Linked DNA regions of Homo sapiens: all the other regions are linked to region 2. The links come from fine-mapping of genetic effects on gene expression. A gene starts in region 2. Each other region holds a variant in brackets. All regions are shown on one strand. Distances are from middle to middle.

Region 1 (5,230 bases), 42 kb after region 2:
TCAGCCTCCTGAGTAGTTGGAATTAACAGGTGTGTGCCACCACACCCGGCTAATGTTTTGTATTTTTAGTAGAGATGGGGCTTCGCCATGTTGGCCAGGCTGATCTCGAACTCCTGGCTTCAAGTGATCTGCCCGCCTGGGCCTCCGAAAGTGCTGGGATTACAGGCGTGAGCCACCACGCCTGGCCCCTTGATTTTTTGTTGTTGTTGTTGTTGTTGTTGTTTTTACGTTTTAGTCTTTTTTTTTTATTATACTTTAAGTTTTAGGGTACATGTGCACAACGTGCAGGTTTGTTACATATGTATATATGTGCCATGTTGGTGTGCTGCACCCATTAACTTGTCATTTAACATGTTAATGCTATCCCTCTGCCTTCCCCCAGAACAGGCCCCGGTGTGTGATGTTCCCCTTCCTGTGTCCATGTGTTCTCATTGTTCAATTCCCACCTATGAGTGAGAACGTGCGGTGTTTGGTTTTTTGTCCTTGCGATAGTTTGCTGAGAATGATAGTTTCCAGCTTCATCCATGTCCCTACAAAGGACATGAACTCGTCATTTTTTATGGCTGCATAGTATTCCATGGTGTATATGTGCCACATTTTCTTAATCCAGTCTATCATTGTTGGACATTTGGCCTGGTTCCAAGTCTTTGCTATTGTGAATAGTGCCGCAATAAACATACGTGTGCATGTGTCTTTATAGCAGCATGATTTATAATCCTTTGGGTATATACCCAGTAATGGGATTGCTGGGTCAAATGGTATTTCTAGTTCAAGATCCCTGAGGAATCGCCACACTGACTTCCACAATAGTTGAACTAGTTTACAGTCCCACCAACAGTGTAAAAGTGTTTCTGTTTCTCCACATCCTCTCCAGCACCTGTTGTTTCCTGTCTTTCTAATGATCGCCATTCTAACCGGTATGAGATGGTATCTCATTGTGGTTTTGATTTGCATTTCTCTGATGGCCAGTGATGATGAGCGTTTTTTCATGTGTCTTTTGGCTGCATAAATGTCTTCTTTTGAGAAGTGTCTGTTCATATCCTTTGCCCACTTTTTGATGGGGTTGTTTTTTTCTTGTAAATTTGTTTGAGTTCATTGTAGATTCTGGATATTAGCCCTTTGTCAGATGAGTAGATTGCAAAAATTTTCTCCCATTCTGTAGTGCCTCTTCACTCTGATGGTAGTTCCTTTTGCTGTGCAGAAGCTCTTCGGCCCGATGATTTTTTATTGTTTGCTGGACATTAAGAACAAGAAAGACTGAGGAATATCTATCCCGGCAAAAGGCTTGCTCTTCCTTTTGTCACACTGTTAATGAGGGGGACTGAGCTGGATCTGGGCTTTGAAGTAGCATTAATTAGAGTCAGTTTACCATTGGATTCACATAGTTTGAGAGTGGGATCACGAGTTTGTTTTCGGCAGTTTTCACTCCGAACCCCAGTAAGATCTTGGAGATCTCTTTATGCTTCAGAGCCAAGCTGCCAGCTTCCTGAGTGGTGGGAGATTTCTCTTTGTTTTATAGCTTGGCTGCTAGCCTTTCTGGACAGTGGTGAGTTATTTATACTCTTTCGATGGCTTTCAGCTCCTCAGAAGGTATCTCTTTGCCCTGCTCTTTTTAATTTTATTTATTATTATTTATTTTTTGAGACGGAGTCTCGCTCTGTTGCCCAGACTGGAGTGCACTGGCACGATCTTGGCTCGCTGCATCCTCTGTCTCCAGGGTTCAAACGATTCTCCTGCCTTAGCCTCATGAGTAGCTGGGATTACACATGCATGCCACCGCGCCTGGCTAATTTTTGTATTTTTAGTAGAGACAGGGCTTCGCCATGTTGGTCTCGAACTCCTGACCTCGGGTGATTCACCCGTCTTGGTCTCCCAAAGTGCTGGGATTACAGGCGTCAGCCGCTGCGCCTGGCCTGCCCTGCTCTTCTTTTCATTTCTTTTTTTTTTTTTTTTTGAGACGGAGTCTTGCTCTGTCACCCAGGCTGGAGTGCAGTGGCTGATCTCGACTCACAGCAACCTCTGCCTCCTGAGTTCAAGCAGTTCTCCTGCCTCAGCCTCTGGTGAAGCTGGGATTACAGGTGCCTGCCACCAAGCCCGGCTAATTTTCTGTATTTTTTGTAGAGATGGTAAAAGCTGATTTCTGTCCACTTACTTGCCTTCCTCCTGGTGTCAGGCTGCTGCTCTGCATCTAGGGACTTCACAGGTGCCTGACGTGACATAGGGGCTCTCTCAGCTCTCCTGCCCTAGCACCTTGTGCACTACCCATGTGTATTTGATTAAGGCCCACAGGAAAGAGTTGGCAAGTGGATGCAGATTTGCTGTGTTTTGGGGCTCCTGGAGATTCTAATCTATCATTTCAGCTCACATGGAGACATTAAAAGTTTGTTAACAGTTCAGCTGGTATCTTCTTACCCTTATCTATTGGCAGATTCTTTGTCTTTCCACCACTTTGCCACAGATGAAAACAGCTGTGGATTACTACTTTGCCTATGAAGGCCTTCTTGATATCTGATACTTACTTCCTGTAGGTTTCTTTGTGTTCTATCCACATTTTCTAAATCCTGGGGCAAATTGTCTCTGTGTAATGTTATAGAATGGAGGTTACAGTCATCCCATGGGATTTGATTCATTGAGGCAAAGTGGATAAAATATTTCCAAAAGGCATCATTTCTAAGTGGACTGGGGAGTTCACACCTTGGCTTTGCCACTTAGAGCTTTGTAGTAGTATTCAGTTACTCTCTGAAAGTACTGCTTTGTTAATTGGAGGTTAAAACACCCACATCTGTCATCCTCTTTGGGCTCCGAAGATTAAATGATGCAGAAGTACAAAGTAAACTTCCCAGGGCTTGAGTGGTTTGACTAGGATTACTGTAGGAAAGATTTTGAGATTTACCTTTAATGGTAGAGTGGGCAGTAAGGTGAGTGGGATGGATACAGGATGGCTTTACATTTCCTGAGCTGTCTTTACAGCAAGATTATATTTCATTTCAAATAAAAGAAGAGAAGGCTAGTGGTTAAAAGCATGGTCTCTGAAAAAAGGTTTTCTAGGTTTGACTCTCAACTCTATTATGTACTGTGTGACCTGGGGCAAGCCACTTCACTTCTCTGTTTCTTAGTTCCTTTGTTT[G/A]TAAAATGGGGATATTAATAGTTCCTACTTCATAGGATTGCTATGAGGACCAAGTGAGAGGCTAAGAATGTAAAGCAGAGTTCTGGCTCAGCATGGCAGGCTCAGTAGCAGTGAAGTACATTGCTTCTCATTTTTTCCTTTCTGGTTGCTCTCATGTCAGGGCAGGGCAGAGACAATCCTGGTTAGCTTTTCATCCCAGCAGAGAATTCAGATACAAATCCTGATTAAGAAGGTGTATTTAGTAAGATGTTTCACAATGCTCATGGGAGCTGGGGTGTCTCCGTTCTGCTGTTGGTTGGTTAGTACTGGAGGCCAGATGTTTTAGCTCCTCTTTCATGACTTTAATCTTGTGTTGGATTCATCACCAAAAGACGAACAGGAGCATCCGCTCTGCATTACTTATTACCTCCAAGAAGAAACACTGTCGCAGCACTGTAGAATGTTAATGTCTCTTCCCTACACACCCTCTCTCCACCTCTCCACTTCTGTCTTTCCTCCTTTCCTTAGTTGTGGGAATGTGGTATATAGTCAGGGTGATTTCTTTGTGGCAGGGTAGAGATGATTAGCAATTTGGTTCTCTTAGGTTGAAAATGCTTACATTTATAGGTTATATAGTAGATAGAGCCATGCTGTGTTGAAATCTCATGGTTTTGTGGGTTTATATAGTGTATTTTCAGCACTTTTAGGTGCAATAACATTCACTTGCTTTCAGATGTATTTTAAAAATTGCTGATTACTTTTGTATTAAGATTTGAGGTCATTAATTTTAAGCAGATTGATAAAAATGGTACTTAATCTCTGTGTATTTGGTATGTGAATTACGTAGCATTTATTTTAGGAAATTTCCATGGAATTCCATTTATCTCAGCAGTTTTGAGGGGAGAAGATAATACTGTAGATGTAACTTACTGGAGTGCTTTAATTTTAATTCTGTTGACTGTCTCTGTGTATAGGTTTATTACCACTTTAATTTCTTCAGTTTACTTTGTATGTGGAGTTCTATAGTCATTTAATCATTATTCCTGTGCTCAAGGTTCTACAGAGATGAGGCCTGCCTTTGGGCTCTTCTAGACTTTGAAAGAAGCATCTTGTCACTGGAGTATGGATGATGGGGGATGATGGAGAGGATAGGGGCAGAATCTGGATCTTGGTACCCTCCTGCCTTCAGGGTTGACAGATTCAGCTGGCATTTTATGCAGAATTCAAGTTATTAACAGAAAACTCTACAAGAGCAAATGAAGCTTTAGTTAAATAAACATGAGGATTTCAAATATCAGAATATCAACTGTTTGGAATATCTACATTCCTGTACCCTTTCAGTGAGTAAATTGGCCATAATTATCTTTATTTGTAGAAAACAAAGAGGTGCTGGTTCAGGGATATGTGATATATTGGCCACTGGCCTCAAGCATGAGTTTTGTCATTTGGAGACAGATCAGTGCTGCCACCTAACCTCAAAGAATGAGGATGTGGCCTGTCATCTGCATACACAAATGCAAAGATATCATCACTTCCTTTTTGCCAAGAGTGGGCTGAGTAAATTTGCCAGATTGTGGTGATTGTGCTTGTCTGCCGACAGGGAGCATGTTTTGCTTTTAGTTGTCCAGGGATAATAACTGCCGGTTATTAAATGCCTCTGCTACCTTGCTGTGTTCTTTGTCCATAAGACTTCATCCTCCCCTTCACATTTTAAGGGGAGGTATGGTTAGCTTTATTTTTATAAAAGGGGAGCTTGAGACTCAAACAGTACTAACTCTTCCAAGGTCCAGAGCTTTTCGATGGTAGTTCCGGGGTGGAACTCAGATCTCTGACCCCCATACCTCTGATCTTTCCCCTTTACCATGCAGCCTCTGGGCTTCAGAAAATGTTTCCTACAGGATTATATTGGATGCCACTGATTAAATGATTACTGCTACTTAATTAATTGGAGATAGAATTTGATGCTAGAAATGTTTTTGGCAATAATGAGTTACTTAGGTGACTGAACTTTTACATTTATTTCTAGGAGGTCATTTTTTCCTTGTTTTTGTTCGTTTGTATCTTCTCTCATAAATTGTAGTATTCTTGTGGCATGATGGTGGGCCATTTAGTTCCCTGATTACT
Region 2 (5,230 bases):
TATTCATTCACCTTGTGAGGGACATCTTTGATTCTTCCAGGGTCTCGTGATTATGAATAAACATTCGGGTACAAGTTTTTGTGTGGGCATGTTTTCAGCACAATTGGGTAAATACCTAGGAGTGTGATGGCTGGACTGAATTGTGAGACTATGCTTAGCTTTGTGAGAAACTGCCAGACTGTCTTCCAAAGTGGTCGTACCATTTTGCATTCCCATCGGCAATGGATGGGCATTCCTGTTGTTTTGTATCCTTGCCAGTATTTGGTATCCTTAGGTTTTTTGTTGTTGTTGCCGTTAGCTTTTTTATTTTAGCCATCCTAGTAGGTATGTCATAGTATTTCATTTTTGTTTTAATTTGCAATTCCTTAATGACACATGATATTGAGCATGTTTATTTGCCATCTGTGTATTGTCAACTCCACTTTAGGGAGGTGTCTGTTTAGATCTTTTGCTCACTTGAAAATTGGATTGTTTTTTAATTGACACCTGAGTGGCCTTTTTAAAAAAGTGGGTCTTATGAATAAATAGAGTGAGGGCTCAATCATGAATTCATTTATTCAGCAACTACATCAGGTACTGCCACTCTCATACCCAAGGTCTGCATTCCTCTTTTCCATTACTAACAAAACTCTAATATTCCTCCAGCCAATGCCCCAACTTTAAATACTTAGCATTTCAGACTCCTTTGCAGCTAAAGGTGGTCATGTGACATGTGGCTGGCCAATAAAATGCAAGCAGAAGGTGCTGGGTAAAGCTTCCCAGGAAGATGCAGACCCAACTGGGCATGCACCTCTTTGATCTTTTGCCCTTTACCCATCCCCCTACCATTTTCCTCAATGTGATGCAATGCTTACAAGGGAAGCAGGCATCCTGTGAGGATGAAGACAGAGATCACATGACAAGGATAGCAGAGACAATGGCTAGAAAGAGCCTGAGACACAACGACACCATAGAAGAGATATTACAGAAGCCCTGTGGCTGTCTCCAGGTTTCTGGTTTTGTGATAAGAAGCACTCCTATTTAGTAGGCACTTTTAGTCAAGATTCTGTTACAGGTCACCAATTCACTCCCTGATGCAGCAACATTTTATTAAGGATGAGGCACTTATTAGCGGTGGGCTCTAATCCTCTAACAAGACTGCTCTAAGCAGTTTTTATTTAAAGGACTGGTTCACACAAGACCATATTTGAAATAATTTATTTGTACCATGAACCACAACACTAGGAATAGAATCATATTTACCACATGCTCAGCACTGTACTAGGCATTATAAAAGGAGGAAAGAGGACTGTAAAATAAGGGCCTTATCCTCATGGAACTGATGATCTAATTAGAGAGGTAAGACTGACCTATATGAAACAAACCTGAACACTTTGGGATGATGTGTTTAAGGGCTAACAGTGAGTGCAAACTAAGTGTAGCAGCGGTTTATAAGGCTGGGGTCACCGAAGAGGGAAGCAGCCAGGGAAATATGATTAGCAACCTTGAAAACACTCTGGGTATCTATACTTTCATATTTTTGAGTTCTAAATTAATGACCTAAACATAGACATGGAAGCCATTCCCCTGGGTAAGTGAAGATGAAATGAAGGAAAGTCATTTTAATTTGAATGCCAATTTAGCTTTCAATTCAGCAGACATTTGTCACTCTAGTATCAATATTTAAAATACTGGGTCACTGTAATTATTCACCAAAATCCTGTTTACCTTGTTAATTACCAGCAATTTTTTAAAATGATGGCACTTTATGGAAACTGAATATACGTCATCTTTAAAAAGAGCTTTTAAAATCCCTCCTTTGGAAGTAATGCAGGTTAATAGATTAGACATTTTATGAAGAGGGCTGCATGATTTTTCTACTGCATTTCTGGTGTTGCAAACTTTGGTGAAATTATTAACTGCTATTCATTTTTTCCAACTTTTAGTTGTCTCTAGCTAGATGTTGATCATTATTACACATCTGTAAAGAAAAGAGCAAACCAACTTGAATTAGTGTTTCTTGAACTATTCATTAGAATTTAAAATTTTTTCCTAAAAGTTTTTCAATTTAGTGATCCTATTGGTAAATAAAAAGAATAAAGGCATGCAAATTAAAATAAAGGTAACATTTCTATTAGATGTTTTTAAACCCCTTTCCTTTGTGACCTAGCTTTTCTATCTTGGCTTTTCTATCTTTTCTTCTCTTCCTTTCCTTTCCTCCTTTCTTTTTCTTAAGTTTGTTTATGCCTCAGTCATCTGGTCGCACGTGGCTATGTTCCACTGTGGCAGGGCTTAGCTGGCAGTTTCAGGGATATCTTAGTTTTAATAAGTATTGTGGATTTCCTCACATCTAGGGTGGAGAGAGATTGGTTATAGGGTGATAAAAACAGAAGAATCTGTGTTGAAGGAGATGGGAAGATTTTAAGAATGCTAACGAATTTGAGCAGGGCATAAAACCAACCCATGAACAGGGCTACAGTCCTCTCAGGGTTGCCTGAAGCCTCAGCCCTGGAGGACGTCTGACACCTTACAGGTAGAGGACCTCTGTGCAGGAGCCCTCAACACCCAGGGAGGATTAGGATATAAGCGCAAACTCAAAGGTACTGTAATGGGCACCTAGCAATCAGAGGTGATACAAGGGTCTCTTGGCCCGAAGTATCCCCACCTCTCCTCGCTGGAAAGGACGCTGCCTAAGCCTCATCCCGAGCTGGGGGCGGAGGACCAAGGGTGAGAGCCACCGCCTCCGCAATCCCCCGCCCCTCGGCACCGTCGCTCAGCGCGCTCGCCGGCTCCCTATTGGCCGAGGCACTCGCCAATCCTGGTGAAGCGGCCCCGTGAGTTGGCCCTGGTTGGTGGAGCCGGCACTGAGCCCCCCTCCTGCTCCGGCCGAGCCCCCCCGCCGGGAGGGGGCGTGGCCGCGGCCGTGGACGGGCCGGAGGCGGCGTCGCTCGCGCCGCTGCGTGCGGTGTGGTGCGAGGCGGGTGCGCCGGGCGGCCGCGGCGCGGCGGGACCATGGAGCTCAGAGCGCAGCCCCGGCGCCGGCGGCGGGACCGCGGACCGGTGAGTGAGGGCTGCGGTCGCCCCGGCTCTCCGCTGTAGGCTGCTGTGGCCCTCTCGGCTCCGGGCCGGGCGGCTGTCGGGGGAGGGGCGGCCCCACGGCGAACTGAAGTTGCTGCATCGCCGCGCGCTCCGGCCGGGCGGCGGGGCCCACTGCGGGCTGCGGCGCCGCCTCGCGCCTATCCCTGCAGCCCGGCCGCATTCTCCCGGCCGGCTCCCGCGCTGGCAGGGGCTTCTCGCCGTCACGGCGCGGCCAGGCGGCCCTTCTCTCCCGCGCCTCCGGGCCTCCGGCCCTTTGCCGTCCGGTGCGCGCTCCCTGGACTCGGGACAGCCACCCGCCCTCCCCGCCGTAAGTGGCGCCCGGGCCTCCGCTCGCGCCCCACGCACGACGCCCCGGGCCGCTCCGCGTCCGGGACCTTCGCATCCGTTCAGTGTCTGCGCGCCCTCGCTGGTTCTGGTCCAGCTCCGCGTGCCCCCCGGCCCCATTCGGCCCTCGCCGCCCTGGCCTGTGCCCTCTTGGTGCCCGCGTGCGTGTTGGTTGCGGGCGTCCTCTCCCTCGAGGCTGCGGTGCCGCGTGGCTCCCGGCCTCGGAGACCAGGCCGGACTCTTGGAGTGCAGGGGAGGAGGTGGGGCGGCCCGCGAGTGCGGGGGACCGCGCGCACGGAGCCGCGGCGCGCGGGGTATCATCCCCGGGGGTCTTTACCCGCGCGCCTGGGCTTTAGCGAGGGCAGAAGCTTCCTCTCAGTTTGTGGTGCTGACGTGCAATGGCGATTGCTTCTTGATTTGGCCCCTCTGCAAGGGAGAGTTCCCTGGTGGAGACGAGAGTTCTTAATTATTCAGAAACTATGTGATGGGCTTAGGGATCAATGGGAGCATCATAGGAATTCTTTCTCATTTTAAGGTTAATTTTTAAATTAGCGGTTTACTTCCAGCAACAGTCTCGAGTTTTCAAAAACTGAAAATTAAAAAGACTACTTTTCGCAGTTCTTCAAATTAAATGCATAGCAGAACATGGTATTTTAAGATTCAGAGTCTACTTTTTATAAGGGGGAGAGGATAGCTATTTGAAATATTTTGCATCTTAAAAATTAGGTTTATCTAAAGCTTAAAATGCGACTCTATCAAAACTAAGTTCAAAGTATTGTAATTGACTAATCTTTCTATTGTCTCTAGGGCAAATTCTATTGCTTCTTTTTATATGTGCTTTACCCAACTCTCCTTTTCTAGCAGTTAAACAATGCAGTGGTTCTTTAAAGCTAGTTCTTTTATCTGCTTGAGAGGTTAAACAAACGAAAGCTGGGTTTGACCTTTCCCAAAGGCATTCTCATTGTGTCCTCTCCAGCTCCCTTCTCCCAGGGTTCTAATGACTTCAGTGTAGTACTCATTTTTCTTCATCTTGAAAGATTTTCTTAGTTGGTATTCACAAAAGCTGTGTCTTTTCACATGTTTAAATATTGGAAAGTTTGGTCAACTATTATATTTACCTTCCAACCTGTGCTTATTCTAGAACTATGTACATATAGAAATTGTTCTTGCATTTCCAGTTGGCTGACATGAAGTTGCTTAATAGCATTTGTTTTTAAAAAATCTGTTTGCTTTAAAATTTACAACCTAATAGTCAATGATGTGCTTCACTATCTTCAACAATTACGAAAACAAAGGTGGAACACACTTTGCTAAGTGGTCATGCCAACATTGTAACCTCCTATCTCTTGTCAGTGTGTCTTTGTAGTCACACGTTACGGTTCCCATAGAAACCTATGTATGGCAGGTAACCTTTTGGTTATTGGGATGTTTTGATTAAAACAATTGCGTTATAATGCAAGTATTAAATGAATTGTCCCTACTCACGGGCTAGTACTAGTGATCGTCTTTGGAATTCCAAGGACTTTCTTTGAAGAGTACTCCCAGATTGTTTTTCACTTTGGGTGGCTCTCCATTGCTGTAGACCTTGAATCTCTTTTTCTTTTCTTTTCTTTCTTTCTTTCTTTCTTTTTTTTTTTTTTTTTTTTTTTTTTGAGACGGAGTCTTGCTCTTGTCTCCCAGACTGGAGTGCAGTGGTGTGATCTCGGCTCACTGCAACCTCCGCCTCCTGGGTTCAAGCGATTCTCCTGCCTCAGACTCCCGAGTAGCTGGGAGTACAGGCGCCCGCCACCATGCCCGGCTAATTTTTGTACTTTTAGTAGAGATGCAG
Region 3 (5,230 bases), 42 kb before region 2:
TGGGATTACAGGCATGAGCCACAGCGCCCAGCCTGTTTGGGTATTTTTTAAATGCCAAGTTATTTTGTGCCCTGACACATTTCAGGCCACCTCTCTGCCCACATAATTTTATGATTATATGACCGCATTTACTGATAAAAAACGACCACCAAAAATATCTCCTTTTCACCTTGGCTTAATTTAAGACTGTCACTGAAGCATTTGATGATAATGTCTTAGGCATCTAAAATGGCAAAATTGCAGGCCTGTGGACAAATTAACAATTCTTCTTTGGTTCTTGCATTGGAGGTTCTGATACTTCAAAACATAGACTCCTTTATGATTTGTATTAAAGGGAGAGCACTATAGGAGGAAAGAATCAGAGTAACAATGCTGTTATCGAAAATCACAAACCTTTTTGGAATTGCATTTGATGCAAAATTATAGACTGTCTTCAACTTCCTTTTTGCAGCTGTGAGTTGTTTAGTATTTAACCATGCAACCTTAAATTACAGAGAAGATGGGGGAAAAAAATCTCTGTTCAGGGCGTTGTCTCCACTCATCTTTGTAGATATCTTGGTGTGAACATAGCGTAATATTCCCATTAATTGTTATATAGACTAATTCTAACACTGACTTCTAGGTTCTTTGTGTAGTTTTGACAGTGGTATATTCATAAAATGGAAAATCTGGAAATTTTTCAAAGCTGAAATAAAACGGCAAGGATTTGGAACTAAAATCAAGGGTTTAACCTTTAAAAGAAATCAACTTAATTGTAAATTTCACTTCAAACATTTCCCGGGATCTGGAGAAGGCAAACTGCAGAAAGGTCAGCCAGATTGCAGTTGGGCAGAAAATCTCATTTAAACTGTATTATCACAACCAAAAAGCCCTATTTGGAAATCAGACGTAAATAATGCCAAGCAATCAGGGAGGTAGGAAGGACGGGTGGATCTCAGTGCCTGCCCCAGCCCCTGACTGCCTCTGACGAGAGGTGGACATCTGTTCTGCTCCGGGGGCAGAGGCAGGAGTATGGAGCTGTACTGCTGCTTTCATCACCCAATAGCCGGTGGCCTTAGAAAAAAGCAAATTAATTTTGGAGGCTTCAGTTCCCTCATCTGTAAAAAGAATGGGTGAAAAGAGATGATCTTTAAGGTTCCTTCCAGTTCAAAAAAGTTCTGATTCCAGGTCATTTTCTGATTCGCTGACATTGGTTCCTTATAGGAAGCCATCAAGGAAGAAATGAAATGTGAGCAGTGGCATGAACATTTGGTTCGAGAGTTTCTGGGATATTCTTGGCTGAAAACTGGTGTAACTGATGACTTACAGATAAGTGAGAAGAAAGCACCGTTAAAAGGATGGATTAGGCCAGGGGTGGTGGCTCACGCCTGTAATCCCAGCACTTTGCGAGGCTGAGGCGGACAGATCACATGAGGTCAGGAGTTCAAGACCGGCCTGGCCAACATGTTGAAACCCAGCCTCTACTAAAAATTTTAAAAAATTAGCAAGGCATGGTGGCACATGCCTGTATTCCCAGCTACTCAGGAGGCTGAGGGAGGAGAATCGCTTGAACCCGGGAGGCAAGGGTGCAGTGAGCTGAGATTGTGCCACTGCACTCCAGCCTGGGCAACAGAGCAAGACTTTGTCTCAAAAAAAAAAGTGGGGGAGGGTGGATTAAAATTCTGCTCTGCCATTTCCTTCTTTGTGCTGATACATACAAATAAAGTAAAACACCTAGCATCAGATCAGGTACCTTGGAGGTAAACCCCACATAGAAGCTATGGATGATGTTGAAATTTGGCCACCCATTGAAGCAGGATGAGTGCATGTACAGAAGAACACCCGAGAGGCAGAACTGCTGAAATAGCCTAAAACCTTTAGGCTACTGTGAGAGGCCACTGTGAACTATCGAGGCAGCTACAAAGAGAAACAGCCTAGGTGGTTGCTTTAGAAGGACGATTCCTTCTACCAGGTGGAACAGTAGTGGGACAGGTCACCAAGCTGGGGACACTCAGCCTGCAGTGGTCTATCCTTAAACCATGTGGCCCTGAGAATTAGTCCTGGAAATTCCCTTCAAGTCAGTGGTGATGAGAATCACACAAATAACTATACCAAGAAAGCCAAGGTCAACACAAAGTAGAAAAGTCCTAGGAATGGAGCCTCAGGTGTCAGTCTTGGAAAGAGACAGGGCAGGGTCCGAGGAAGAGCTGCAGAGGAAACATAAATCAATGAAGTGGCCTCAGACAGGCCAGGATGGCTCCTGGCTTGTATTGGACTCTTAATACATATTTATTCATTGACGGGCTCAATGGATGGATAGATGTTGTGCCTGAAGTTAAAGAGGCACGAGGGACAAAGGAGTGTGAAAAATGGCAGAATCCATGTCTGAAAAAGCTCTGTTTTCTTCTGCCCTGGTTATTTTTTGGTTCCTCACCTCCTTTCCTGTCTGAGGACTGTCTCAGGCATTCCCAAACCCGAGCAAACCCCAGAGATTTCCTGAGTAGGACCTTGCAGCCTTTGACAGTAACGCACGGTAGCAGTTGTCATTGTGTCTTACTCAATCTCCCTGTCTCTTTTTGTTCTCATTGCTCTTTCCGTAGTCCAGCTCTCTGACTACTCTGACATTCTGGCCCAATGGCCTCCTCATGGTCCACTCCAGCATAAGCCATTTGATCATTTAGCATTCCACAGGCTTTCCAAAATACTTTCCAGGCCTCTGCACTGTGCCTCAGTTAAAACCCCAGTTGCTTTGTTTGACATGCCA[C/T]CATTTGTCCTGGTATGACATTCCAAGCATGCTTTCTACTTTCCTCCAGGAACCTTCCGGGGCAGCCCAAACTTTTTGCCCTCAGCCTCCACTGTCATCCCCACCCCACTCACTGGTGCATATGAGCTCATGCATTTCCTTTGTCCGCAATGACCTTGGCTCATCCATCCATCTATCCAGCCGCTCACCCATCATGAGCTTCCTACCAGCCATCAAGTGCTGGTCAGTATGTGCTCATATCCCTGCACATCCCTGTCCATACCCCCATCTCACTTCTTTCTGGGCTCTTTTCATGTACTAATTCTTGTTTGGTGATTGTACCAGCAATCCCAACCAGATAACAAGCACCTCGGGGGAAGGATGATGTCCTGTGTTCCCTTCCTGGCGCTATCTGATGAACAGAAACATTAAGGAGACCTCTGGGGGACTTGTGGATTGACAAAGTCATTTTCAATAAGTTTTGTTAGTTAAAGTAAAGGCAAGCTAACTTTCTGAAGGCTATCTAAAAATAGAATTTTAAAACCAGCATTCCCATCTGAGTAATAAATTCAATTAGATTTTTGGATTTAAAAAAAAAATGTGATATTGGTTTTTCATTTCTTCTGCTAGTTGTTTCCAGGCAACCTTGAACTTGTCAAATAAAAAAGTATAAACAGAAGACTATGAGTTTTATGACCTTACTTTGAAAATCCTGCCCTCGGCAGGCTAAACACACTCTCAGCATTATGACTAGACATTTCTTAAAGGCCAGCCCCTAGGTTTTTCTTGGGGGATTTTAGGATGAAAACATAGGATGTGGAGTTATATACTCCAAATAATTTGAATCCTGACTTTATCGTTGTGAGATTGGAATAAATCATTTAAACTTTCTGACCTTTGGTTTCTTAAATTCTGAAATAGGCATCATCCCCCAACCTGCCTACCTTACAGTGAGGTGACTGAAGAACAAAGATGACCTTTGTCATCGTCTTTGTCCATCATCACCATCATCCATATCATCTCTAGAATTAATATAAAAAAGGCAGAGAAGGAGAGGCAGATCCCTGGACTTCATGCCTGGCTGGGAATGTAGGAGCAAGCCCCCAGCTCCTGCCAGGGTCAGCACACGAGCAGCCATGGCCAGTTCCTGAGGCACAGCCACCCCATGCAAAGGTCTGCATCCCAGAGGCACCTCTACGCAGCCAGAATCAATTTGCCTGTACTTTCTTGCCTTCCAGCTCCTTAATCCTTGGCCCAGGATGGCTCACTTCAACCCATCACCTGCTTTGGCTCTGGGCCCCAAGCTTCCTGAAGGGCCCAGTCTTTTCCAGCTGCTGGGACCAGTTTGGGGTAACCCTTACAGCAATGGGAATGGCAGTTCCAGCTCCAGGCTGGGGTAAATCAAGGAAGCCTTTGCTGTTTGTTCTGAGCTTGGTTTTCAGCTCCCAAGAGCTGCATGTGATAGCTCCCCTCTCCCTGTTAACACAGTGGAGGAACAATTATCTTCCTGGTGAAAATTGTTGGGACTGTCTTCCCTTCTCTGTTTGCAGGCAGCACCAAGTTGGGACGAATGAAATAAGAACGTGAGGGAGAACAGCCCGGGCTGTTCGCTTTCACAAACCCCTCGGGTCTTCAGACTAATTCTGAAGATCACCAGGAGACAATTTCTAAATGAAGAAAGGGAACACTGGGCTTATTAAAAAGCCTCCTCCTTCTTGCAGAGTAGAAGGATCCTTCTATCTCACCAGAAAATATGCCATTTCATAAGAAACCTAAATTGTTTTTTCTATGGTGACAAAATGAAATGTTCCTTTGTCAAGAATGAGCAAGCCTCAGAAAAGAGAGCCCCTCCCTGCCCAGCCATGAGGAGCGATTTTGCTACAATTTCTGTCCATTTTAAGATCAATGCAAATTACTCAAGTGATTTGAGAGCAGTCGTGGAGGGCAATTCTTTTGGGAGAGATTTTCAAATTGTGTTTTAAGTCCTCGAGGCCGGTTCCCAAGACAGAACTGGACCTTCTCAATGACCGGGACCTTGTTATTCTGGAATAACATGTTATTATGGGACATCATTATGCTTCATCCTGACCCCATGAAGTTTATGAGACAGGCCCAATTATTGAGCCATATGGCAAAGAGAAATTTGGGTAAACAAATTTGTATTTCAATAAAATTTAGAGTCCCATAAAATATAATAATTAAGATGTACATGACAGCAGGTGCGCTTGCTTAAAGCTGCCTTCGCAGCTCACCAGATGGTGTGCCCTGGGTGATTCATGTTCCAGGAGCAGAGAATTTTCAGGCAGGTAATCTTTGCAATATTCTCTTTTGTCCATTTTTCTTTTGGGCAGTATTTCTGATTCATTGTATCACCCCTTCCAATCAGCTTTGTTTTAGAGAATTTCTTAGGGCATGCCTCTAGTAACACAGTGTATTGAAGGGTTTTTTCCTTGATTTTGTTTTTTATTTCCTTCTTAACTCACATGAATTCTCTTCTCCAGGATTGGA

Which allele goes with the higher level. Positions count from the first base shown, and alleles are read on the strand shown. Sizes are in standard deviations (SD) of each study's normalised expression. Not every link is listed here.
As copies of T replace C in region 3, the expression in subcutaneous fat of the gene that starts at base 2,903 in region 2 goes down (small effect, 0.23 SD a copy in GTEx).

The links. PIP is the estimated chance that this variant, and not a neighbour inherited with it, causes the effect. A credible set is the group of variants that fine-mapping cannot tell apart.
Region 1: its variant is the best candidate, but not a certain one, in a credible set for the expression of WASF3 in whole blood (INTERVAL, PIP 0.61).
Region 3: its variant is the best candidate, but not a certain one, in a credible set for the expression of WASF3 in subcutaneous fat (GTEx, PIP 0.64).

The regions. Positions count from the first base shown.
Region 1 is chr13:26,597,248-26,602,477 of GRCh38, forward strand. All of the region lies in intron 1 of WASF3 (WASP family member 3), which reads left to right. Among named protein-coding and RNA genes, the nearest start is that of WASF3, 42 kb to the left of the region's middle. The variant G/A (reference allele first, on the strand shown) is at 3,128.
Region 2 is chr13:26,554,781-26,560,010 of GRCh38, forward strand. It overlaps WASF3 (WASP family member 3), which reads left to right and starts at 2,903. Exons shown (of 10, transcript NM_006646.6): 1 at 2,903-3,039. RefSeq lists silencers at 2,477-2,536, 2,797-3,006.
Region 3 is chr13:26,513,156-26,518,385 of GRCh38, forward strand. No RefSeq gene overlaps it. Among named protein-coding and RNA genes, the nearest start is that of WASF3, 42 kb to the right of the region's middle. The variant C/T (reference allele first, on the strand shown) is at 2,744.